Homo sapiens: one gene and its partners. The protein of the gene in region 7 interacts with the protein of the main gene of each other region in a biochemical or structural test. Each region holds a gene or a part of one and is shown on either strand. Other genes may lie near its edges. The genes, in order: DOCK4, MAST2, ABCC4, ARHGAP21, ARHGEF11, LIMK2 and PDLIM2.

What was found.
Region 1: the proteins of PDLIM2 (region 7) and DOCK4 interact in a test that uses a peptide from one of them, tested with the Homo sapiens proteins (one large-scale study listed by IntAct).
Region 2: the proteins of PDLIM2 (region 7) and MAST2 interact in a test that uses a peptide from one of them, tested with the Homo sapiens proteins (one large-scale study listed by IntAct).
Region 3: the proteins of PDLIM2 (region 7) and ABCC4 interact in a test that uses a peptide from one of them, tested with the Homo sapiens proteins (one large-scale study listed by IntAct).
Region 4: the proteins of PDLIM2 (region 7) and ARHGAP21 interact in a test that uses a peptide from one of them, tested with the Homo sapiens proteins (one large-scale study listed by IntAct).
Region 5: the proteins of PDLIM2 (region 7) and ARHGEF11 interact in a test that uses a peptide from one of them, tested with the Homo sapiens proteins (one large-scale study listed by IntAct).
Region 6: the proteins of PDLIM2 (region 7) and LIMK2 interact in a test that uses a peptide from one of them, tested with the Homo sapiens proteins (one large-scale study listed by IntAct).

The regions. Positions count from the first base shown.
Region 1 is NC_000007.14:112,199,900-112,203,399, forward strand, and holds part of DOCK4 (dedicator of cytokinesis protein 4), read right to left. Parts: intron 1-3,500. UniProt on the Homo sapiens protein: Functions as a guanine nucleotide exchange factor (GEF) that promotes the exchange of GDP to GTP, converting inactive GDP-bound small GTPases into their active GTP-bound form. Involved in regulation of adherens junction between cells.
Region 2 is NC_000001.11:45,810,112-45,813,611, reverse strand, and holds part of MAST2 (microtubule-associated serine/threonine-protein kinase 2), read right to left. Parts: intron 1,164-3,500; exon of another isoform or gene 1,041-1,163; coding exon of another isoform or gene 1,023-1,040; intron 665-1,022; exon of another isoform or gene 612-664; coding exon of another isoform or gene 585-611; intron 1-584. UniProt on the Homo sapiens protein: Appears to link the dystrophin/utrophin network with microtubule filaments via the syntrophins. Phosphorylation of DMD or UTRN may modulate their affinities for associated proteins. Functions in a multi-protein complex in spermatid maturation.
Region 3 is NC_000013.11:95,294,952-95,298,451, forward strand, and holds part of ABCC4 (ATP-binding cassette sub-family C member 4), read right to left. Parts: intron 1-3,500. UniProt on the Homo sapiens protein: ATP-dependent transporter of the ATP-binding cassette (ABC) family that actively extrudes physiological compounds and xenobiotics from cells.
Region 4 is NC_000010.11:24,717,388-24,720,887, forward strand, and holds part of ARHGAP21 (rho GTPase-activating protein 21), read right to left. Parts: intron 1-3,500. UniProt on the Homo sapiens protein: Functions as a GTPase-activating protein (GAP) for RHOA and CDC42. Downstream partner of ARF1 which may control Golgi apparatus structure and function. Also required for CTNNA1 recruitment to adherens junctions.
Region 5 is NC_000001.11:156,944,743-156,948,242, reverse strand, and holds part of ARHGEF11 (rho guanine nucleotide exchange factor 11), read left to right. Parts: intron 1-14; coding exon 15-62; intron 63-286; coding exon 287-474; intron 475-792; coding exon 793-939; intron 940-1,227; coding exon 1,228-1,307; intron 1,308-1,455; coding exon 1,456-1,581; intron 1,582-2,080; coding exon 2,081-2,198; intron 2,199-3,045; coding exon 3,046-3,224; intron 3,225-3,500. UniProt on the Homo sapiens protein: May play a role in the regulation of RhoA GTPase by guanine nucleotide-binding alpha-12 (GNA12) and alpha-13 (GNA13). Acts as guanine nucleotide exchange factor (GEF) for RhoA GTPase and may act as GTPase-activating protein (GAP) for GNA12 and GNA13.
Region 6 is NC_000022.11:31,260,798-31,264,297, reverse strand, and holds part of LIMK2 (LIM domain kinase 2), read right to left. Parts: intron 2,165-3,500; coding exon 2,059-2,164; intron 1,704-2,058; coding exon 1,507-1,703; intron 1-1,506. UniProt on the Homo sapiens protein: Serine/threonine-protein kinase that plays an essential role in the regulation of actin filament dynamics. Acts downstream of several Rho family GTPase signal transduction pathways.
Region 7 is NC_000008.11:22,583,475-22,586,974, reverse strand, and holds part of PDLIM2 (PDZ and LIM domain protein 2), read right to left. Parts: intron 2,155-3,500; coding exon 2,085-2,154; intron 1,959-2,084; coding exon 1,813-1,958; intron 1,655-1,812; coding exon 1,576-1,654; intron 1-1,575. UniProt on the Homo sapiens protein: Probable adapter protein located at the actin cytoskeleton that promotes cell attachment. Necessary for the migratory capacity of epithelial cells. Overexpression enhances cell adhesion to collagen and fibronectin and suppresses anchorage independent growth.

The DNA of each region.
Region 1 (3,500 bases), on a different chromosome or scaffold from region 7:
TGCATGTGATGGCTTTAAATATTTGTTCCATCTTTAATAAGAAATACTACAGAAGACAGACTTTGACTTAGACTGAAGGAAAAAAGGATAATTAAATTCTTTGTTAAAATAAACCCACATATCTGACTATCAAAGACAATAACCACCACCACCATCAACTCCTTGCCAATGTCATGAAAGGAACTTCACAGAAACCCAGTAAGATGTGAGTTGCAGTCCTTCTGGTATCACAAATGTAGCATTTAAAGCAGTGTTTTTCAAACTGTGGGTCAGGACCCATTAACAAGTCAATTTAGTGACAAGTATTTTTTTTAACAAAAAAGAATAGAACATTACATAGAGTATAAGCAAGTGCTGTTTTAATTATATGTGTGTGGGGTGGTACTGGGGGATATTTATATATATACTAGGTCAGGAAATTAACTATATTTCTTATGGGTAATAGTCAAACAAGATTAAAAGCTACTAATCTAGAGTAAGTCACTTAAACTCTATGAAACTGTTTTCTCATCTCTTAAATAGAAATTACCATTCAACTTCAAAGGGTAGACTCAGATAAAATAATTTCACTTTTTAAGTAAAACATTGTATTACTGTGTTACGGTTACAGCCTTTTAGAAGGGTTTCATTAGAGTTTAATGTTCCTCTGATGTATATATTCACAGCATGAAGTCACTGTGATAGAAACATAGACATATTGTATCAAACATAACTCAGAAAATGTTGTCTCCTTTTGGAAAAGAATAGAGCTAGAGATAGGAAATCCTAAATTTCTTGAAATTTGTATAATCTCCCTCGTACTAGCTACCATAACAGCCTCTAAAATAAAAAAAAAAAAACAAAAAAAAACAAGATCATAGAGGAAGAGCAGCATCTCTATGTGGCTTCAGGGGCCTTGTGAAGAACTGTCACTTAGGGGAATGACCAAAAGAGGGGAACATTTTTATAGACCATTCCCATAGGAGGCCAGATCAAGAACATAAGCTGCTATCCCACTGTCTGTATGGCCCTTCGGTGGTATTTTACTGGGAGGTATAAATCATTTCTCTTCTATTCCCACTTAAAGTTTAGAATCCTGTGTCAGGCTCTAAATGTCACAAACAATTCCAAGCAGAACATTATTATTTAGCTTTACATGCTATGTAGATACATCATAGGACCACTAATAGAAAACACTTTAAGAAACTGTTAGCTAAGAAACTACAAAAAACTAAGAGTAAAGGAAACACATCCTTATTACGCTCTATCACACACATACGCTATGATTAAAGCATCTTTCTAAGGAGAAAGACACCTAACTATCCTGTATGAATACGAGAAGGTGCATCTTCTTCCACCAACATAGAAGGGGCTTTAAAAAGGAACATGATTCCTACCCAGATGAGTTCAAAAACTCCTTCAAGAAAAATAGAATACAGGAATTTATGTGATGACTGAGTGATACTCGCACCACACAATTTATTTTTTAAATGACACTGTGACTTCAGATCAGCTTGTTCTGAGTTTTGTTTCTTATAAGGTTCATGGATTTTCTGCACCGATCAATCCAGCCCGTGTTCTCCTGTCAAGCTTAACTAAGCTCACACATGTAAAACATCTGGCTAGGTTTGAGGGGTGCAGCCTTCAGCTCAGGAAGATGCCATGACTCATCTGTGAATCTGTGCATAAAAGCCTGTTGGACAAATGAACGCAAAAACAATCTGCAAAGGTCTTAGCTTTCTCCATGAATAATTCCCACCACTTTAAGGCGGGGTGGGGAGGGGGGAGGAATGGGGGGGTGTGCTAACAGATGAGGACATGCAGGAGGTAGAGGTAATCTGAGGAAATTGGTGAGTATGCGATCAAGAATGCTTTAGTCACCATTCTGTGCGATAGATCACTAAAGCATGTTCCCCCTGTCTCACCAAAACTTTGTACACTTTGATCATCATCTCCACTTTCCCCAACCACCCTCTTCCCCCAGACTCTGGCAACCATCACTTTAATCTCTATATTTATGAAGTAAACTTCTTTAGATTGCACATGTAAGCAAGATCATGCAGTACTTATCTTTCTGTGCCAGACTTACACTTACTTCATTTACTATAATACCCTCCACATTACTGAAAATGACAGGATTTTCCCCTTTTTCAAGACTATATAATATTCCATTGTGTATAGATACTACATTCTCTTTACCCATTCATCTGATGATGGACACTTAGGTTGCTTTCATATCTCAGACATTTTGAGAACTGCTTCAATGAACATGGGATAGCAGATATTTCTTCAGCATACTGATTTCAATTCCTGTGAATATATACCAAGCAGTGGAATTGTTGGATCATATGGTAATTCTATTTTTAGTTCATTGAAGGTCCTCCATGCTGTTTTACATAACAGCTGTATTAATTTACATTCCCACTAACATGTGCACAGCGTTCCCTTTTCTCTGCACTCTCACCAATACTTGTTACCTTTCATTGTTTTTATACAGCCATTCTAACAGATGGGAGGTGATATCCACAGAATGGAGATACAATAAATAACAATGCATTGTATACTTCAAAAGTGCTAGAATGGATTTTAAATGTTTTTTACACCACAAAAATGGTAATTATATGAGGTGTAATTTGTTAATAGCCTGATTAATCACTCCAACTGTAAACGTACATCAAAATATCACACTGTACACCATAAATATATACAGCTGGGTGAGAAGGTGCATGTCAGTAATCCCAGTTACTCAGGAGGCTGAGGTGGGAGTATTGCTTGAGGCGATCAACCAGGAGCTTGAGGCTACAGGCTATAGTGCACTATGATGGCGCCTATGAATAGCCACTGCACTCCAGCCTGGGCAACAGAGCAAAACCCTGTCTCTAAATTAAAAAAAAAAAAATGAAAACTTAAAAAATATATTATTATTATTTGTCAAGGAAAATACATTTAAAAAACAAACAAAATGCTTCAGTCACTGCCCATGGAGCTCCTACTAGCCAGAGAGAATCAAACAAATTGAGAAAGAGAGGAACCAGCACCTCAGTTCTGGCAGCTTGCCAGGTAGCGTTTGCTTACCTCTGATCTTACTTAAAAACCAAGTGAGATATGTCACAACAAAAGTGTCTCTGTCATAGCAGTCTCAACACAATGAAGATGTTTTTCTAACCAAAGAACACAGTTAGTTGGAAGAGCTCTACAAAATTAGTACCAGGGAAGGCTTTAGTTAACACTTGCCCCAGACGCTGGGACCCAGAAAGGCTAAGTGATTTACCTAAGGTTACACAGCTGGCAGCAGTGTCTAGCCCAGAATCAAGAGCTAACTAGAATCTCCTAAGGTGAAATTGCCTATCACTGTGCCTCTTAACATGATTTCTAAAAGACAAGGTTCCCTGTTCCTCAGAACTATAACTTCATCACTATACCTTTTCCTAAAATCAGAACACTTATGACTGACTTTTCGTTGTTTTAATGAATTTAATCATTCATTAAATGGGACGGTGCCTATACATCAGTTACGAAAA
Region 2 (3,500 bases), on a different chromosome or scaffold from region 7:
CAGAAGAATTGTTTGAATCCGGAAGGCAGAGGTTGCAGTGAGCCAAGATCGTGCCACTGCACTCCAGACTGGGGGACAAGAGCAAAACTTCGTCTCAAAAAAAAAAAAAAAAAAATTGGCCAGGCGTGGTGGCGGCTGCCTGTAATCCTAGTTACTTGGGAGGCTGAGGCAGGAGAATTGCTTGAACCCAGGAGGCAGAGGTTCCAGTGAGCTGAGATCGCACCACTGCACTCCAGCCTGAGCAACAGAGCAAGACTCGGTCTCAAAAAAAAAATGATAATAATAATAATAATCTTATGGGACCCCCATCTTGTATGTCATCCATCATTGACTAAAACATAATTATGCGGAACATGACTGTATGCAGAGAAAAAGAAAATGAATAGTTCCATCTATACTGAACATGTATAGATATTTTTTTCTTGTCACTATTCCCTAAGTAATAGAGTGTAACAGTTATTTACATAGCATTTACATTGTATTATATATTATAAATAATCTGGAGATGATTTAAAGTACATGGGAGGATATACATAGGTTACATGCAAATACTATGCCATTTTATAGATAGAACTTGAGCATACCAGAGTTTGGTATCTGCAGGGGGTCATGTACTCAATCCCCGAGAGATATTGAGGGACAACTGTAGCAGCAAACAGACCTGAGGGGCTGAATGTGGAATACAGGTAAGGTTAAGAAAAAAATCAAACACAACCTCCAGTTTTGTTCTGGTAAATGAGTAGTGCCATCTATTGACATGAGGCAGACTGGGGAAGAAGCAGACTAGAAAGTGAAAATCAAGACTTCATTTTTGGACATGTTAAGTTTGAGAGGTCTCTGAGCTATCCAAATGAAAATGTTACACGGACTATTAAAAATAGGAGTAGGGCCAGGCACAGTGGCCGATGCTTGTAATCCCAGCACTTTGGGAGGCCGAGGTGGACGGATCACCTGAGGTCGAGAGTTTGAGACAGCCTGACCAACATGGAGAAACCTAGTCTCTACTAAAAATACAAAATTACCCAGGCGTGGTGGCACATGCCTGTAATCCCAGCTACTGGGAGGCTGAGGCAGGAGAATCACTTGAACCTGGGAGGCGGAGGTTGCAGTGAGCCAAGATGGTACCACTGTACTCCAGCCCGGGCAACAGTGCGAGACTCCGTCTAAAAAAAAAAAAAAAAAAAAAGGCTTACAGATTGATCTTTAGGCCAAGAGACATCCAGAACAATGATGGGAAAACTCTGTAATCACATGTGTCCTACCCTCATCAGGGAACATTTGCCAACCTGCTTCAAGCCACCATAGACTCTCTGCTCCCAGTACTTTTGATGAAACTAAATATTTCAAAGTTAACACCTTTTTAGGAGCTAGCCCTTACCCATACCCTGGATAAGAGGGAAAGGAGGTCAAATAAACTTTTGCACTGAAAACTCGGAAGATTTCTCAAATGCTCATGTCTCAAACAGCATGTCCTGCATCCTATCCTCCACACAGTTGCCAGAGTAATCCAACTAAAACACAAATAAGAATATACTGCTCCTGTGCCGCGCGCGGTGGCTCACACCTGTAATTCCAGCATTTTGGGAGGCCAAGGCGGGCAGATCACCTGAGGTCAGGAGGTCCAGACCAGCCTGGCCAACATGGTGAAACCCCATCTTTACTAAAAATACAAAAATTAGGCCAGGCGCAGTGGCTCACGCCTGTAATCCTAGCACTTTGGGAGGCCGAGACAGGCGGATCACGAGGTCAGGAGATCAAGACCATCCTGGCTAACACAGTGAAACCCCGTCTCTACTAAAAATACAAAAAAATTAGCTGGGCGTGGTGGCGGGCGCCTGTAGTCCCAGCTATTCGGGAGGCTGAGGCAGGAGAACGGCGGGAACCCGGGAGGCAGAGCTTGCAGTGAGCCAAGATCAGGCCACTGCACTCCAGCCTGGGTGACAAAGTGAGACTCTGTGTCAAAAAAAAAAAAAAGCCGGGTGCGGTGGCTCACGCCTATAATCCCAGCACTTTGGGAGGCCAAGGAGGGCAGATCACGAGGTCAGGAGATCGAGACCATCCTGACTAACATAGTGAAACCCCGTCTCTACTAAAAATACAAAAAAATTAGCCGAGCGTGGTGGTGGGCGCCTGTAGTCCCAGCTACTCCAGAGGCTGAGGCAAGAGAATGGCGCGAACCCGGGAGGCGGAGCTTGCAGTGAGCCGAGATCGCGCCACTGCACTCGAGTCTGGGCGACAGAGCGTGACTCCGTCTCAAAAAAAAAAAAAAAAAATACAAAAATACAAAAATTAGCTGGGCGTGGTGGCATCCCAGGTACTCGAGAGGCTGAGGCAGGAGAATTGCTTGAACCCCACAGGGGGAGGCTGCAGTGAGCCGAGATCGTGCCATCGCACTCCAGCCTGGGAGACAAGAGCGAGACTTCGTCTCAAAAAAAAAAAAAAAAAGAAATATACTGCTCTCGGCTAGGCACGGTGGCCCACGCCTGTAATCCCAACACTTTGAGAGGCCGAGCCAGGTGGATCACTTGAGGTCGGGAGTTTGAGACCAGCCTGACCAACATGGAAAAACTCCGTCTCTACTAAAATACAAAATTAGCCAGGCATGGTGGCCAATGCCTGTAATCCCAGCTACTTGGGAGGCTGAGGCAGGAGAATAGCTTGAACCTGGGAGGTGGAAGTTGCGGTGAGCTGAGATCGTGCCACTGCACTCCAGCCTGGGCCACAGAGCAAGACTGCCTCAAAAAAAAAAAAAAAGAATATACTGCTCCCCTACTTATTATCCTTTTTTTTTTTTTTTTTTTGAGATGGAGTCTCGCTCTGTCGCCCAGGATGGAGTACCGTGGCGCGATCTTGGCTCACCGCAACCTCCACCTCCCGGGTTCAAGCAATTCTCCTGCCTCAGCCTCCCAAGTAGCTGGGATTACAGGCGCCCACCAAGACGCCTGGCTATTTTTGTATTTTTAGTAGAGATGGGGTTTCATCATGTTGGCCAGGCTGGTCTCAAACTCCTAACCTTAGGTGATCCACCCACCTTGGTCTCCCAAAGTGCTGGGATTACAGGCGTGAGCCACCACACCCAGCCAATTATCCTTTTATATCACACTAAAGACCCTCAACAATCAAGGCTTCTTTAATCTCTAACCTAGCATTTACACCTTCAACGTAAAGCTCTGGGTCTGGCAATAACAAACCGATTATAGTTCCCTATATATATTACGCAGCTTCCCTTCTGTGTGCTTTCTGCCCTATGCTTTTCCCAATGTACTAACCCTGTAATGCAGAGGAAAGAGGTTCTGATTTCCATTAAAATAATTTTTTAAAATTTCTGTCACACTGAGGGTATTTTAGGAACTAAAGTTGAACTCATCTTCTGCCATCCTCAAAAATATTCTATTTCCTTTGTCTACTCCTATCATATAACCATTATTACTCAAATTACCAAAATTCAAAATATTTGAATCATTCTCCATTCATTCATTCAATAAATAATGACTGAGCAC
Region 3 (3,500 bases), on a different chromosome or scaffold from region 7:
CTCAAAAATTAAAAAATTAAAAACAAAAAATAAAATAAAAATAAGGCACTCAAATGTTTGCTAAATGAATAATCTAAACCGCAGAGGATCAAGGCAGTAACCTTGGCCTCCCAGACACCGATCAAGTAGAATTGGACACCAAAGACTGAGAAAGACCTGAGAAACGTGGCTCCCAAATCTCAGCATCTGAATCAACCAGGAAATAATGCTTTAAAAAATGCAGATTTCAGGATGCTCAACCCCAAGAGACTGTGATTCTGCAGACACAGAAATTTACTATTTGGCCGGCCACAGTGACTCACACCTGCAATGTCAGCACTTTGGGAGGCCAAGGCGGGAGAATCACTTGAAGCCAAGAGTTTAAGACCAACATGGGCAACACAGCGAGACCTGGTCTCTACCAAAAATGTATTAATAAAAATTACTGGCCAGGCACAGTGGCTCGCCCCCGTAATCCCAGCACTTTGGGAGGCCGAGGTGGGTAGATCACAAGGTCAGAAGATCAAGACCATCCTGGTCAACATGATGAAATCCCATCTCTACTGAAAATACAAAAATTAGCTGGATGCAGTGGCGTGCGCTTGTAGTCCCAGCTACTCAGGAGGCTGAGACAGGAGAATCACTTGAACCCTGGAGGCAGAGATTGTAGTGACCCAAGATCACGCCACCGCACTCCAGACTGGGCAACAGAGCAAGACTCCGTCCCCCGCCCCTCAAAAAATTAGCTAGGTGTCCAGGTGCGGTGGCTCATGCTTGTAATCCCAGCACTTTGGGAGGCCAAGGAGGGCGGATCACAAGGTCAGGAGTTCAAGACCAGCCTGGCCAACATACTGAAACCCCATTTCTACTAAAAACACACAAAAAAATTAGTTGGGCATAGTGGCAGGCACCTGTAGTCCCAGCTACTTGGGAGGCTGAGGCAGGAGAATCACTTGAACCCAGGAGGCAGAGGTTGCAGTGAGCTGAGATCACACCACTGCACTCCAGCCTGGGTGACAGTGAGACTCCGTCAAAAAAAAAAAAAAAAAACACTTTAGCTAGGTGTGGTGGCGTGCACCTGTAGCTCAGCTACTTGGGAGGCTGAGCTGGAAGGATCACTTAAGCCTAGGAATTTGAGGCTACAATGAGCCATGATTGCATCACTGCACTCCCACCTGGGCAACAGAGCAAGACCCTGTCTCAAAACACACACACACACACACACACACACACACACACACACACACACACACAAAAACACAAAATTAAATGGCCAGGAATAGTGGCTCATTCCTGTAATCCCAACGCTTGGGAAAACCAAGGCAGGAGGACTGCTTGAGCCCAGGATTTTGAGACCAGCCTGGGCAACATAGTGAGACCTCATCTCTACAAGAAAAATATTTTTTTTATTATAGAAAAAGAAAATATAAAATTAAACATTTGATGCATTGACTGAGGGCCTCACACACCCTTCCTCTCTAAGCCATCCCCTGCCCTCAGCCACTTGTGTTTGCTTCTATAGTCATGTCATCAGCTCTCTAGGGCAGGTCTCCAGAGAGTCTGTCTGGTCACCAGTGGCAGTTTCCACAGCAGCACAGGCTTTGCAAGATGACACTTCACCCACTGAGATATGGCCAGCAACAGGGGAGCAAGGATTTAACCACTTTCTGTGGGCCAGATGCATCTGGAGATCCCTCTCAATGCCCATATTTAGGGAAAAGTCCTTCGTTGTTAGCCTCCACCCTGCTGCTGACCCCAGATCACCTCTGGATCAGGTGTGGGCAGAGGAATGCAAAGTGCCTGCCGGGCACCAGGGGGCAGCAGGACAATTCCTAGGAGAGTCTCAGGGATTGACCCATCTTGTGCCCAGCTGGCCACAGTTCATAGGCTATGCCACTTATTTCCACTAACGGGAAAGAGGAGGAATTATTCAATAAATGATAATGGGGAAAACGAGCTGTTTGGGGAAAAAATGGGGACTATCTCATATCAAATACCAAAAGAAATTCTAGCTGCCTTTATTGTTAGAAATGAAACAATAGCTAAAAGAAAATGGAAGGCCAGGCACAGTGGCTCACACCTGTAATCCCAGCACTTTGGGAGGCCGATGCAGGTGTATCACCTGAGGTCAGGAGTTCGAGACCAGCCTGGCCAACATGGTGAAACCCTGTCTCTACTAAAAACATGAAAATTAGCCAGGTATGGTGGTGGGCACTTGTAATCCCAGCTACTTGGGAGTCTGAAGCAGGAGAATCACTTGAACCCTGGAGGCGGAGGTTGCAGTGAGCCGAGATCACACCACGGCCAGCCTGGCAACAGAGCTAAAACTCTGTCTCATAAAAAAAAAAAAGAAAGAAAAAAGAAAGAAATAGGTGAAAATACTACCTTTAAAAATCCACAATTGCCAACAGCCATAATGCATGACTCCTTTTAGACTCCAAGTCCAAATTATGCTATAAATACACCAAAATCCCGGGAAAATACTTTGAATAAAAGTCAGTAAGCCAGTTATTGGCATCATTTAGGTAGGCAGCTGCCAGTTCACAAGTTCAGAAAGCAGATGATATTTGAGAAGAAAAGCAAACACTCAACAAGAAGGTGAAAAAGCAGTTTTTCCCTACAAGGTGGGCCCTGTCTCCAGGCAGCCACTTCCTGGATGGGCTCATTTCAGCTTTCCACTGGCAGTGGGAAGGGTACACAAATACTGACCTAAAAGCAGGAGGCTAAGGCACAAAATATAACTCAAGAATTTACTACAGACCCAGTGTGGTGGTTCATGCCTGTAATCCCAGCACTTTGGGAGGCCGAGGCAGGCAGATCGCTGGAGCTCAAACTCCTGAGCTGTGGATTACAGTGTCCTTGGGGCACTGTTAGGTTAATCTGTAGCTATGTGGCAATATGAAGTACTTTCGAGTGATAAGTAAATAGCTCAAGGGGGTGGGAACTACGAGGTGACTGCTGTGTCATTTTAATGTCTCTCTGGGCCTGATAATTTAAAAGGACTCCGCATTCCTCAGATGATGATTATTATTATTTTCTCACTATGAGGCCTCAGACTTTAAAATCCCTCAAACTGGCCCAGGCACAGTGGCTCATGCCTGTAATCCCAGCATTTTTGGAGGCCAAGGCGGGCAGATCACCTGAGGTCAGGAGTTCAAGACCAGCCTGGCCAACATGGTGCAACCCCATCTCTACCAAAAATACAAAAATTAGCTGGGTGTGAGGGTGCACGCCTATAGTCCCAGCTACTTGAGAGACTGGGGCAGGAGAATCACTTGAACCCAGGAGGCAGAGGTTGCAGTGAGCAGAGATTGCACCACTGCACTCCAGCCTGGGTGACAGAGCTGAGCAACAGAGAAAGACTCCGTCTCAAAAAAAAGAAATAAAGAAATTTTAACAATTAAAAATAAAGAAAAGCATAATACTGTAATAATACTCCAATGAAAGGAGTAGCTGGAAGCAGTAAGCGCCTCAAATCAGGATCACCTGGAGCACTTGAAACCTCACCACCCCCACCCACA
Region 4 (3,500 bases), on a different chromosome or scaffold from region 7:
ACTGCAATCCAAGGGGGATATAGATAAACTTGTAACTGGTATTCCTGAAAGTGCAGGGTGTTTTGAGAGAATACACTAGGGGCAACTGAAAGAGTCTTGCGGGTCAGGGAAGGCTTTCCTGAGGAAGCAGTATTGAAGAAAAGACCAGTATGATGAGTAAAAATCAGCCATGGAGCAGAGGGAGGAGGAACAGGGGACAGTAGAGGGAAGGGTAGAAGAAAGGACCTGACAGGAGTTCAATCTAGGAAGAACAAAAAGAAGTAACAAGTGAGACAGAAGCGCGGACCAAATTACCAAAGTCCTTTCAGACTTCACAGAGGTCTGAATTTTATTTCAAAGGAAATGGGAAGACAGAAAATTGTCTTATAGGAGGTAATGTAACGATCAGCTGGAGTACAGTGGCGCGATTTTGGCTACCTGCAACCTCTGCCTTCCGGGTTCAAGGATTCTCATACCTCAGCCTCCAAACAGTTGGGACTACAGGTGTGCGCCACCACGCCCAGCTAATTTTTGTATTTTTAGTAGGGACCGGGTTTCACCATGTTGCTCAGGCTGGTGTACAACTCCTGACCTCAGGTCATCTGCCCATCAGGAGGATCATTCTGATTACAGTAGGGACAGAGCTGCGGAAGGGGACAAGGCTAAGTTATTGGGAAACTCCGTAGGGAATCTGTTTCTGTGGTTCATCAGTGAGATGCAGCTGACCTGAACTCAGGTGGGGGTAGTGGGTATTGGGAATGTGGACTCCACAAGACTTTGCATATGAGGAATGACGAGACGGAAGAGTGAGAATGCTGACCTAGTTTTTGACTTGGACCAATAAATAGATGGTAGTGCTACTCAGCGAAAGAAGGTGCACAGGAAGAGGGAGAGTCAGCGGTAGCGGTGAAATCTGATGAGTTTGCAATGCCTGGGGAATATCCCCCAAAAGTGTTCGGTAAATAGGCAACTGGCTGAAAAGGTCTAGAGATCAACCATAAAGCCTGAGATAGAGGGGTAGATACGGAGTCACCAGCACACAGGAGAGTGCAAAATAAAACCCAGGGAGTGAGAAAGAGAATACAGGAATGGAAAGGCCTTGGCTCTGGATAAAACCAACAATGGGGCAAGAAGAGGAAGAAAAACCCTACAAAAGAGGCAGATAGAGAGGGAGATAGAAAGGAGGGGAGGAGAAGAGAGAGCGCCTGAGAAGGAACTAGGGAGTCTGGGATGAAAGCAAAAGCAAACTGTCCAGCATTCCAGAAGGAAGAGTCAACACATGGATTCATACAAACTCGTACCCAGAAAAATGTCTTATTGTATTGTTTACAGTATTTCAAAATCAACCAACAAGTGTATTTCATCAGCCATAATACATTTCAGTCATAGAATAATCTTAGCCTAGGTCAAGAAGCAAAACAAAAATAAGTTCATTTGCATTAGTAAAAAGTTTAATAATAAAGTGACAAAAATTCTATTACTGGACAAGAGTATGGACTACAGATAAAAAATGAAATAAATGTTAGAAATGGAAAAAAAATCATGTGGTTAAGAAAGCTGAGGGAAAGTTTTCTCTTCTTTGGCTTAAAAAAAAAGTTAAACCTTGAAAGATGAAGCTATATGGATATGAAAAGGGGTGATAATATCATAGAGGATTCAACAGAAGAATCTATATAAAGTGATTTTGTGAGCAAAGTTACTCAAGGATTGGTGTCAGAAGACTTCACGGACTACACACACACACACACACACACACACACACACCCCAAAAATCACTTAAGAGGTTCAGAGTGAGTGATTTCAAGTTTTAAAAATACACCTTGAGATGTATAAAAGTATATAAATTCGTGTGAGTACCATCTGGACCATCCTTACTGTATAATGCCAAGACATATTCTACTGAACTGTCCTAATTTCTTATTTGAAGAGGGCTGTTTATTTGTTTTGAGGCTTCCAATATATCCTGGGGGTGGGGAGGCCTAAATGTATATCATATATCAACACAATAAAATTGCAATGCTTAAGATGAACAAGAAATCTCTGATTGTTTTTCAACAAAGCACAAGGCCTTATTCAGAGAAGGTGGAGTTGGCTAATTAGATAAAGCATGAAACAGAGACTCCTGTTAATTCATTACATTGATTTCTTCTGTCCTATAAAGTTAGGTTTTCTTGGCTGATTAACAGCATTACTATTAAGACACACATGCTCATCTCTTTGTTAGTTAAAAACACAATAATAAATGTAGTATCCAAACACATTATTGATTTTTAAAATTTTTTAAAGAGTGATAGTACCACTGTGGAATGTAGTGCTTCTAATAAAATTGACGACAAAAATTAAATGCAATGTTCAAAAACCTAAATATCAGCCCAAAGTATTTCATTAGCAACTAACTCCCTATTACTAAAAAATATTCACAAGATTTAATGTGTATCAGAAGCATCAATCACAGATTAAAACACGTCACAACTAAATACAGGCAATAATTACACAAGTTCTCTTCACTCCCAACCCTGAGGTTTTAAAATGTTTTCTGACAACATATATCCCCTTTATTTCCACTTCCACATAGAATCTAGGCAAAATACCTATTCTTTAGAAAGTCAAATAATATTGTAGTTTAATACCAAACCTAAATACTGTATATATATTTCACATAAGCAAAACACAGGTGATATTGTGTTTTCTTCATTGCTAAACTTAAAAACAAGATAGCCATGCTGCCAGCAGTAAGGTCCAAATGAAAACAAATTTCACAGCCGTTAAAAAATACATAACTGTCATTGTTAATAAAAGCCAAGTGTGCAACAAACTGGAAATACTGCTTGCTAGCCAAGGACAAGATGTGTCTAAATTCTTGGTTTCAGGACATCTCTTAAATGACCAAAAAAAAAAAAAAAAATCAAATAACATTAGTTCTTGCAAACAGAATGCAAATACAATGCTAATTAAAGTATTCACAAGACAATGACAAATAAGGCTTCAGGACCACAATACATATTATTATGTAACTGCAATACACATTAAGCAATCACCAGGTTGCAGGTAGGCCTTCCAAAAGGAGTTATTATGGTTTACCGTGATCAGAGGATTGTGGTGTTCCACTTAATCATGCTTTTGCCTGCAAGCAGGTGTTTACAGATGTCAAAAAGTAAAACACTGATTCTAAATGTAAACCTACAGTTCTGCCTAATAAATTGTACAGTAATAGCACACTGTACCTCACAACGTTTTCTGCATAAACTTTCTAATTCGACATGAAGTAAGCTGCATGAAGCAAGTTTCTCCGCTTGCTTTATGAACCAAAATTTAACTTCTGATTCATTTTTATTAAAATGCCAAAACTCACACACTTAGAGCCAGCCCTTGTTTCAAGGACTATGAAGTTAAAATTTAACATCCGGTGCAAAAGAAAGTGAGACAGTGAATGAGGGTTCATTTGGGTATGTTATTGTCTAAAGTAATCCTCAACCCTTCAATGAAAACATAGGCATCTCAAAAGTAAAATTTAAAGGATA
Region 5 (3,500 bases), on a different chromosome or scaffold from region 7:
CATTCCCTCCACAGGTCTCTTGAGAACCCAACCCCTCCATTCACTCCCAAAATGGGCCGCAGGTAAGTGATGGGCACGGTGGTGCCTCTGTTTGGTGTCTCTGTGTCCCATCCACACCCAGCTGCTCCTCTCACCTGCAAGGGGCTGGTTGGGTGGCTGTCTCCTCTTCTGGGCCCACTGGTTTCCCATGTGCATGGGGCAAGCAGGTCGGGCAGGAGAGGGAGGGCCAAACCCTCTGTGTGAGTTCTTCCTCCTAAATGAAGCTGAGCTGCCTGTTTTCCCCCAGGAGCATTGAGTCCCCCAGTTTGGGGTTCTGCACAGATACCCTCCTTCCCCACCTCCTAGAGGATGATCTGGGCCAGCTGTCTGACCTGGAGCCAGAGCCAGATGCCCAAAATTGGCAGCATACAGTGGGCAAGGATGTGGTGGCTGGGCTAACCCAGCGGGAGATTGACCGGCAAGAGGTCATCAATGGTGAGAACGTGCTCCACTGCCCCCAGCTCCGCTCACACGTGTGGGAATAGGTCCAGAATGCCTAAGACACAAGGGTGGGAAAGAGGTAAATAGGGTGGGGGGCCCCTGTGTGCTGGAGCAGGTCCACATTGCCTGTTGCTATAAGGTTCCCCTCAGTTCTGGCCCTTGGAGTAAGAGAAAAGTTGCTGTATGATCTGAAACTGGCACTTCAGTTCCCCCAAAAATAGAGTGGTGTGGGAACCAGGTCAGGGACTCTAGATACTTGCTGATCCGTTTTCTCCCTGGCTTTCTACCCTCCTTGTCACAACCACCGCTCAGAGCTGTTTGTGACTGAAGCTTCCCACCTGCGCACACTCCGGGTCCTGGACCTGATCTTCTACCAGCGAATGAAGAAGGAGAACCTGATGCCCCGGGAGGAGCTGGCCCGGCTCTTCCCGAACCTGCCTGAACTCATAGAGATTCACAGTAAGGAGCCTGTGCCCCTCCAGACTCCTCTTCTGCTGCCCTTCAGCTTCCTGTTCCACTTTGGCCCCACTGCCAGGACCTCCCTGAGTAGGTAACCTCCCACCAATCCCTGGTGAGAAAAAGATCTGTGGACAGCCTGAAACCAGCACTGGAGTTCACCCCGAAAGTACAATGGTTTCCAGACCCTTCCCATGGCACTGCTGTCAGAGATTCACTTCTCTCTGTCAGAAAGGTTCTGGCAGTTGAGCTCAACCCCAGGCATTTCTATTTGTTCTCTTCCTGCCCCAGATTCCTGGTGTGAAGCCATGAAGAAGCTCCGGGAGGAAGGCCCCATCATCAAAGAGATCAGTGACCTCATGCTGGCCCGGGTATGGCTCCAAACTTCTCCCTCTTGGCAAGGAGGAGATTGGGGGAGGCAGGGTCTCATTACCCAAGGCCAGAGAATTTGGCAAAGGCAGGGGTCTGGTCCCAGGCAGGGGTTTGATGCCTGGCCCCGTGTCCATTCTGCCTCTTCAGTTTGATGGCCCTGCCCGAGAGGAACTCCAGCAAGTGGCTGCACAGTTCTGTTCCTATCAGTCAATAGCCCTAGAGCTAATCAAGACCAAGCAACGCAAGGAGAGTCGATTCCAGCTCTTCATGCAGGTGCGTCCTTGGCCATGCCTTGGCCTTCCTTCATCTCCATCAAGGTCACCAAGGATCTCCTGAACTTCTCTCCTTCTGGCCACATCATCCCTGTCTACAGCAACTCCCTCTACCCTTCGACACACGCTCCTCAAAAGCACTGACTCACTCTAGACAAAGAGACTTCTGTTTGTTGGAAAGAATCCTGGATTAGCAGTCAGAGGCCTGGCTCACCCACCAGCACCTGTGTGTCCTGAGATGGATCTCAGTTTCCTTGTCTATAGAATGGCAGCAATATGCCTGCCCTTCTGTTTTGACCATATCCCTTTGGATTGGTGTCTCCCTGCCACCACACACCCTTCTCTACATCTTTAAGGAAGAAGCTTCCACTGCCATTTCTGAGTGATCCATCTGGCGTTAGGACCTGTTTGTCATGTTCACACCCATCTTGGCCCTGAGCCCATAAGCCAGCTCCCAGCCACGCTGACATCTCCTCCCTTCTGTGTCTCCTGCTGTCTAGGAGGCTGAGAGCCACCCTCAGTGTCGGCGGCTGCAGCTGAGAGACCTCATCATCTCTGAGATGCAGCGGCTCACCAAGTACCCGCTGCTGCTGGAGAGCATCATCAAGCACACAGAGGGTAGCACCTGGGGAGGGGCTGGCATCACAGGCAGTGGGCCTCGTGCCAGACCCTCATTCTGACACTGCTTTGTGACCTTAGCAAGTCACTGTGCCTTGTGGTCTTTGGTGTCTTCGTCCTTTTTCTGTTGTGGGGTGTTTCAGAGAAGAAAATGATTGTAAATGTCCTTTGGAAAATATAAGGTGTTTAATAGTGGGAGGAGTAGGGGCCACCATCGAAGGCCACCTGTGTGGGCCTTTGTGCAAATCCAAGGAAAGCATCCGGTGCCCAACACAGGCTGGCACTCAAGGGCACCTGGGTCCCTCTGGTTGCATGGGGCTGGATTTTATCCCCATTCATGCCCCCTGCAGTGCACAAAAGACACAGCCTATGTGGTTACACTAGAGGGGCAGGGGACCAGACTGAACAAGAGGGTCTAGCCTCAGGTTATCACTCTCCCTGGGATCCTGGGCATCTTTCACTACCCCCAAATTTCAGACATTGGAGTCAGGACAGAGAGGTGTTAGGAACCCCAATCTGATTTGAACAGGCTTTCTAGAGGCATAATTGTGGCCATTTACCACAGTCTCTGTCCCTTGCATCTGTAGAGCTGGTTGTAGTAGAGGCAGGGATTCCCAGGAGCTATCAGCGTCTTCAAAGCAGTGATCTGTCTGAGACCTGAAGATGCTCAGTAAAAGTTACCCTTACCACTTGGGGTCCTCATGTGAGGCAAGGGTGGCTCCCCTCCACCCACGCCTGCTGGTTTGAAGCAAGCCAGCTGCCATGGATGAATAGGCAGATAACAGCTGGCGCCATGTTGGACTTCTCAGGCAGGAGCCCCAACCATCTCTTCTGTCCATTTTGGTAGGTGGCACCTCTGAGCATGAGAAGCTGTGCCGGGCCCGGGACCAGTGCCGGGAGATTCTCAAGTATGTGAATGAAGCGGTAAAACAAACAGAGAACCGCCACCGTTTAGAGGGCTACCAGAAACGCCTGGATGCCACCGCCCTGGAGAGGGCCAGCAACCCCCTGGCAGCAGAGTTCAAGGTAGGAGGCAGAGGCTGCAGCAGTCAACCCCTCACACTTTGTGGGTACCCTTAGGAGCAGAACACTGGTCAGGGCTTGGAGAGTCTTAGAGGTAGGAGACAGAGACCAGATAGGGTGGCACAATGGAGCCCCAGAAGACACACACCCTGCTATTGTCACCCTGTCCCTAGATGGACAAGGCAGGCCGCCCCACCTAAGAAAGACTAGATGTTGGAACTCAGCCTGAGAGAGCAGGGGATGGGGTAGAACTGGAGGTAAGGTGGAGATCTTCTGGGA
Region 6 (3,500 bases), on a different chromosome or scaffold from region 7:
CTGCTGACCATGCCCACCAGAGCACACAAGGCTAGCTGCCCCCCTCCTCTGCATGGTGGCTCTACAGATACCTGGCCACTCCCAAATCTTCCCTTTTCCAGGCCATGGATTTCTAGCTCTTCCCTGCCCTCTGTTGCCCTGCCTCCCACTAATTTCATCATACTGACCAAGGCCAAGAGGCAATGGGAGTGAGGGCAGCACTTTAATGAGAGGGCACTGTTTCCAACACATGCCAGCTGAGAGGGCTCTAACTTACTCAGTTTGTTTGGTGAGGAGAGTGGATAAAAAAAAACAAACTTTTTTTTTTGGAGACAAGGTCTCACTCTGTTGCCCAAGCTGTAGTACAGTGGTGTGATCAAGGCTCACTGCAGTCTTGAACTCCTGGGCTCAGGCAATCCTCCTCCTCAGCCTCTTGAGTAGCTGGGATTACAGGCATGTGCCACCATGCCCAGTTAAGTTTTTTATTCTTTGTAGAGACAGGAATGTGGCCCAGGCTGCTCCTGAACTCCTGGCCTCAAGCAATCCTCCGGCCTTGGCCTCCCAAAGTGCTGGGATTACAGGTGTGAGCCACAGTGCCCTGCCCATCTAATTAAAAACAATTATTATTATTATTTTTTTTTTGTAGAGACAGTGTCTCACTATGTTGCTCAGGCTGGTCTCAAACTCCTGTGTTCAAGCCATCCTCCGACCTAGGCCTCCCAGAGTGTTGGGATTACAGGCATGAGCCACGGTGCCTGGCCAAGAACCTGATTCTTAGTGATACTAAGAATGTGTCACGTTTACTGAACACTGTCCCTATGGCAGCACTATACAACTTTATGTCCTTTTCCACATTTAATCCTTACATAATTGGTGAGACAGCCACCTTTATCTTACCATCTTATGTCACAGATGCAGAAACAGGCTCAGAGAGATGAAGTGATTTGTGAAGGGAGGAGCTCAGCCTGAAGCCCCAGTAGGGTATCAGTATTTCTGCCTGGGAGCCAGTGCTCTTGACTTCTTTTCTGTAAGTCTCCCTACTTGGGGCTTCCACTCAAGGCAACTTCTCCTTCCCCATGGACCTGGCAGAATCTGGGGTTTGGGGGTTGTTGGTCCCTCAAGTCTAAAAAAAACGTTCATTCATCTTTTGCTTTATTGTTTTCAAAGTCTTTCTACACAATTTATTCAATCCTATCTGTGCCCCTACTCCAGGCTCTGAGCTCCATGCTTTCTCCATAGGCCATGTTGCCCTTCAGGGTTTAGCATCACTGCCTCCTGTCCAGCTTAGGAGTTCAGTGGACAGAGACTGACTCTCAGGTTTCTAAGGAAACCTGGCAGACAGCTGGGTCCGCACAGGCTCTGGCTGTAAACTGTGATCCCCACAGGGGCAGCTGGGTCAGCACAATCCTCATAGTCTGTCCCTGGCCAGCTGGTTCCTTTCCTAACTCTGCAGGCTTCTGAAAGCCAGCTCAGCTTCATCCGAGAGACAGACATAGGACAGAACAGAGCCAGGGTGGGAGGTGGCACCTTAGGGAACGTCTCCTCAGTGTCCCCTCCAGATTCTCCTTGGTGTCCAGGGTGCTGAGGGCGTGGGGGTGTCCGGCATTCTGCATGTGAGGAGCGAGCCGGGCCTCCAGCCGCAGCTGGTCCAGGCGTTGGGAGACGGGGTCATGTTCAATCAACAGCTGAAGTGTCTGGCTCGTCTGGCTAATTGCATCCTCCACCTGTGGCCAAGAGCAGTATAAAGCTCCCACAGGCTGCCCCATCCCAGGCCACCCATGGCCAACCCAGATGACTCAGGCACAGTGTGGCCAGTGCTCAACTTGTCTAATGGTGGCCTTTAGCTGCCAGTGGCCTCACAGTGCCCTCTGCCTGGCATCCTGTCAGCTCTCCCGTCCATCAACCATCCCTGCTACCCTGGGAACCTGTTACGCTGAAATAGGTCACCAGTGGTCACAGGCTCAATGCTAAGACAAAGAGATGGGCTGGGGGTAGGAAAAGGTAAAGGCTACAGCCTGATTTCTCAGAGGATCTGTTCCATGTCCCACCCTCACAAGACAGATTAGACACACACTCTACCTCCTCCACTCGAAGTGTGCGGACGGGGGTCCCATTGATCTCCAGGATGCGGTCCCCAGGGTGGATGGCGTTTCGATTGTTGGGACTGATGTGCATCCGGTTGACCCTGGGCCAGACAAGAGTTGAGGCAGGGTAAAGATGTCCTAAAAACCTGCTTGACCAATTCTGCTTGTGCAGGGAAGGTTTACCAGGTCCCAGGCCACCAGTGGCCCCTAAGGGGCCCAGGATACCCACACAGAAAGGCAACACCTTTTCCAGGATGCCCCATCTCAGTGAAGGGAATTGCCACTCACCCTGTGGCCTAAGCCAGAAACTTGAACATCATCTTCCCAATCTGGAGTTCCCTCATCTCTCCTACTCCCATCTCTAAGAACTCTGCCTTCTTTCCATCATTGTAGTTATTCACATCTCTTACCTGGATCACGGTAATAGCTTCTATTTTTTTTTTAAACTTTGTTTTTAATTTTTATTTGAGATGGCATCTTACTCTGTCATCCAGGCTGGAGTGCAGTGGCATGATCTGGGCTCACTGCAACCTCCACCTCCCAGGCTCAAGCAATTCTCATGCCTCAGCCTCCTGAGTAACTGGGATTACAGGCGCGCACCACCATACCCAGCTAATTTTTTTGTACTTTTTGTAGAGATGGGGTTTTGCCATGTTGGCCAGGCTAATCCCAAACTCTTTTTTTTTTTTGAGATGGAGTCTCGCTCTGTCGCTCAGGCTGGAGTGCAGTGGCGTGATCTCTGCTCACAGCAAGCTCCGCCTCCTAGGTTCATGCCATTCTCCTGCCTCAGCCTCCCGAGTAGCTGGGACTACAGGCGTCCGCCACCATGCCCGGCTAATTTTTGTACTTTTAGTAGAGACGGGGTTTCATTGTGTTAGCCAGGATGGTCTTGATCTCCTGACCTTGTGATCCGCCCACCTCGGCCTCCCAAAGTGCTGGGATTACAGGCGTGAGCCACTGCGCCTGGCCTAATCCCAAACTCTTGACCTCAAGCAATCTGCCCACCTTGGCCTCCCAAAGTGCTGGCATTACAGGCGTGAGCCACTATGTCTACGTCTGGACTTTTCTTTTAATTAAGAAAAACAGAGACGGGGTCTTGCTATGTTGGCCAGGTTGGTCTTCAACTCCTGGCCTCAAGCAATCCTCCCACCTCAGCCTCCCAAAGTGCTGAGATTACAGGCATGAACCACCATGCCCAGCCTACAATAGCTTCCTAACTAGTCTCTATACCTTTAGGCTTTCCCCTCTCCAATCCAACCTCCATACCAGTGATCCTTCTAAAATGTTAACTTGGTCACAACACCTTGCTGCTTAAACTCTCAATGGATCTGCTGGATTTTCATAATCCAGGCCCTCTATACTTAACAGCCCCTTTTCTGGCCACACTCAACCTACATCAGACATGATTAAGACTCCTACTTTTGGAGAAATGCTTCT
Region 7 (3,500 bases):
CAAGTCGTCAGGCAGAGGTGGGACCGACCCAAGTGAGTCTCCCCACACCCAGCTCTGGGCTCGTGACCCACAAGCCCCATGCCCAATTCAGCGGGTGTAGGCTGGAGCCTGGGAAGTTGCATTTCCAACAAGTTCTCAGGTGTTGCCGCTGGTTTGGGAGCCATGCCTCTGTACCTCCCACACCCTTCATTTTCCTGGACTGGGGGCAACACGATGGGGAAGCTCGGGAAGGCTTGCCCTTGAGCACGTGGGTCCTGCTGAGACCACAGCCCACCAGAGGTGTCGCGGAACAGAGCCAGGACTGACACTGACCAGCCCTCTTGAAACAAGCTCATTCCTGGCTCATCTCAGAACAAAGGTTCCCCCTAAAAAATCCCCCAGCCCCAATACATCAGCCGTCGCCCGGACCAGTGTTTCTCCATCTCCCAGCATGTCGGGCCTCCTGCTCATCCTTCCCTAAACCCTCTCACCACCACCTCTAACGTCCAGCAATACTCCTCACACAGCCTTCCTTCCCCTCCCCTCCCAGAACGCCTCCTGCTTTTGTAATTAATACCACACTGCTTAGTGCCTAATTGCTCCAAAATTGTTTTGCAAGTTTGCCTTATCTCTACAACTGCATCTTCAATTCCTTAACAAGGGGACCCATGGAATATATCTCTATGGCCACAGTGCCAGGCTGGCCTCTGGGTGGGCACGCAGCGGGTCACTAGGCAGCCGCTGTTCGGAAGGCCCCCAGAAAGATCCTGCTCCTTCCTCCTCCAGAGCCTCTGGGTTCTAGTGCCCTCCCTGGCCACCCCCAAAGGCTCTGCTTTCTGGAATGCAGAATCAACCCAAAGGTAGGGCTCAGCAGCTGGGCCATATCCCCATCACCCCAAAGGCTGGACGTGCCCCCCACGCCGTCCCCAGCAGCTGCGGCCCAGGGCTGTTGGCTGCCTCACTCCCTCACCATCCCCCACCGTTGAAGAGGAGAAATACCACCCAGGAAGGGGGTTAGGCTGTCACCAGGGGCCACTGGGACCTGGCTGAAAGAGAGTCCAGGGGAGCTGGCGGGGGTAGGGGGAGGAGGAGACAGAATAAGCCAAGAGCGCTCAAGGCAGAACCGCAGTCCCACTGGGGCATCTCTGGGCTGAGTCAGAGGAGGAAGGGAGGGTGTGGGTGGGAGTCAGGCAGGCCCGGGTCTTGGAATGGGGAGGAATGTGTTCGAGAGATGCAGCCAGAGACGAAAGGGAATCATCCCAACAACAGCAGCGAAACTATTTCAGCCACAGCCCAAGAGAAACATACTGGGCAGGGAGGAAGTCAGCAGGATGGGAGGGGAGGGGGATGAGGGGAGGGGTGCAGGAGATGGACGGGCTACTGGGCACTGCTGGGCAGGTCTTGGGCACAGCACAGGTGGCCCACGACCAGAAGCATGGCCTCCCTGGCTCAGGAGCAGAGCATGCCTGTGGCCAGGAGAAGGAGGCCATGGCTGCCCAGGTGGGCCTGGCCGCCTGCAGTCCCGGGGCACTGGCAACCCACAGGAACGGGAGGTGCTTCTGTTCCTCCAGCCTGTCCTCCCCCAGGGAGCCTCACCTGTCGGCTTCCAGGGCGGCCTGAGTAGGACAGGCGGTCAGCAGCGGGGAGGCCCGGGGAACATGCCAGACTCTGGAAGCTGAAAGTGGGAAAGGGACAGTGTGTGCCAGGGCCACCCCCAGCCTGCCCAGGGAGGATGCTGCCCCGGGCTCCCAAGCAGAGCTCCTGAGACTCAGAGGAGCCAGCCTGGAGCTGGCAGCGCAGGCGACCAGGGTACCCACTCACAGGCACACTCACCTGCGGCTGATGGCTGCCTCTCCAGTGAGGGAGCTGCTAGAGGGTGGTGGTGAGAAGGGGCTGCCGGCCCTCGGGCTGAGGGAGGTTGGGCTGGAGTAGGAGGACCTTAAGGAGGACTGACTCTCAGTGTATGTCCTCACGGAGCCCTGTGGAGAGAGTGACTGTGTCAGGAAAGGCAGGGCTGCCCCGCCAAGGCCGCCCTGCCCTCGGGCCTCACTTTCATGCACCAGTGATCAGGGTGCTGAGGCTGTCAGGGGAGGGCACCAGCTTACCTGGAAGCGAGTCGCCAGCACTTCCAAGGAGCTGTCCCCATTGGTCTGCCCTGGAGACGTAGCCTGAGACCTGAGAAGGCAACAGAGGGAGGGAATGTCACAGGGGCCCTGCACCCTGCAACCCCCAAAAGAGGCCAAAACTGTTCCCAGATCTAGTTCTCAACACCAGTAAAAGCTACAGAAAATTTGGACATCCGGTTGTCAACTTTTAACTTTGTCAAACTCAAGACAAACAACTATCATCAATGACAACCATGGTTCCTTAAAAGAAAGGACAGTTGGCCAGGCACATTGACCCACGCCTATCATCCCAACGCTTTGGGAAGCCAAGGCAGGAGGATCACTTGAGCCCAAGAGTTCAAGACCAGCCTGGGCAACATAGGAAGACCTCATGACTACTAAAATTTTTTTTTAAGTAGCTGCACATGGTGGTGCATGCCGGTAGTCCCAGCTACTTGGGAGGTTGAGGTGGGAGGATCGCTTGAGCCCAGGAGATGGAGGTTGTAGTGAGCCGTGATTGTGCCACTGCCTTCCAGCCTGGGCAACACAGCGAGATTCTGTCTCAAAAAAACACCAAGGCCGGGCACGGTGGCTCACGCCTGTAATCCCAGCACTTTGGGAGGCCAAGGAGGGTGAATCTCTTGAAGTTAGGAGTTCCAGACCAGCCTGGTCATCAACAAGGTGAAACCCCATCTCTAATTAAAAAAAAAAAAAAAAAAATTTAGCCAAGCCATAGTGACGCATGCCTGTAACACCAGCTACTTGGGAGGCTGAGGCAGGAGAATTGCTTGACCCAGGGAGGCAGAGGTTACAGTGAGCCAAAATTGTACCACTGCACTCCAGGCTGGGCGACAGAGTGAGACTCCATCTCAAACGACAGTAACAACAGCAAAACCCACCCCAAAAAAAGAAAGGATAGTTTGGTTCTAAAAAGTAGAACGTACATAACTTCATCAGAAAGTTCAAACATTCAGTTTTATTAGAGAGTCCTCACATTATCCTGCCCTTTTTTTTTTTTTTTTTTTTTTTTTTTTTTCTATTTTGCCTGGACTTTGTCACTGATATCACTCAGCCTCGGGTTTGTAGATTGATTTGGGGGAAGATTACTGATTTTTTTGTTTTTTGAGATGGAGTCTCGCTCTGTCACCCAGGCTGGAGCGCAGTGGTGCAATCTCGGCTCACTGCAACCTCCACCTCCTGGGTTCAAGCAATTCTCCCTGCCTCAGCCCCCCAGGTAGCTGGGACTACAGGTGCCCACTAGCATGCCCGGCTAATTTTTGTATTTTCAGTAGAGACGGGGTTTCGCCGTATTGGCCAGGCTGGTCTTGAACTCCTGACCTCAGGTGATCCGCCCGACTCGGCCTCCCAAAATGCTGAAATTACAGGTGTGAGCCACTGCGCCCGGCCTGATTACTG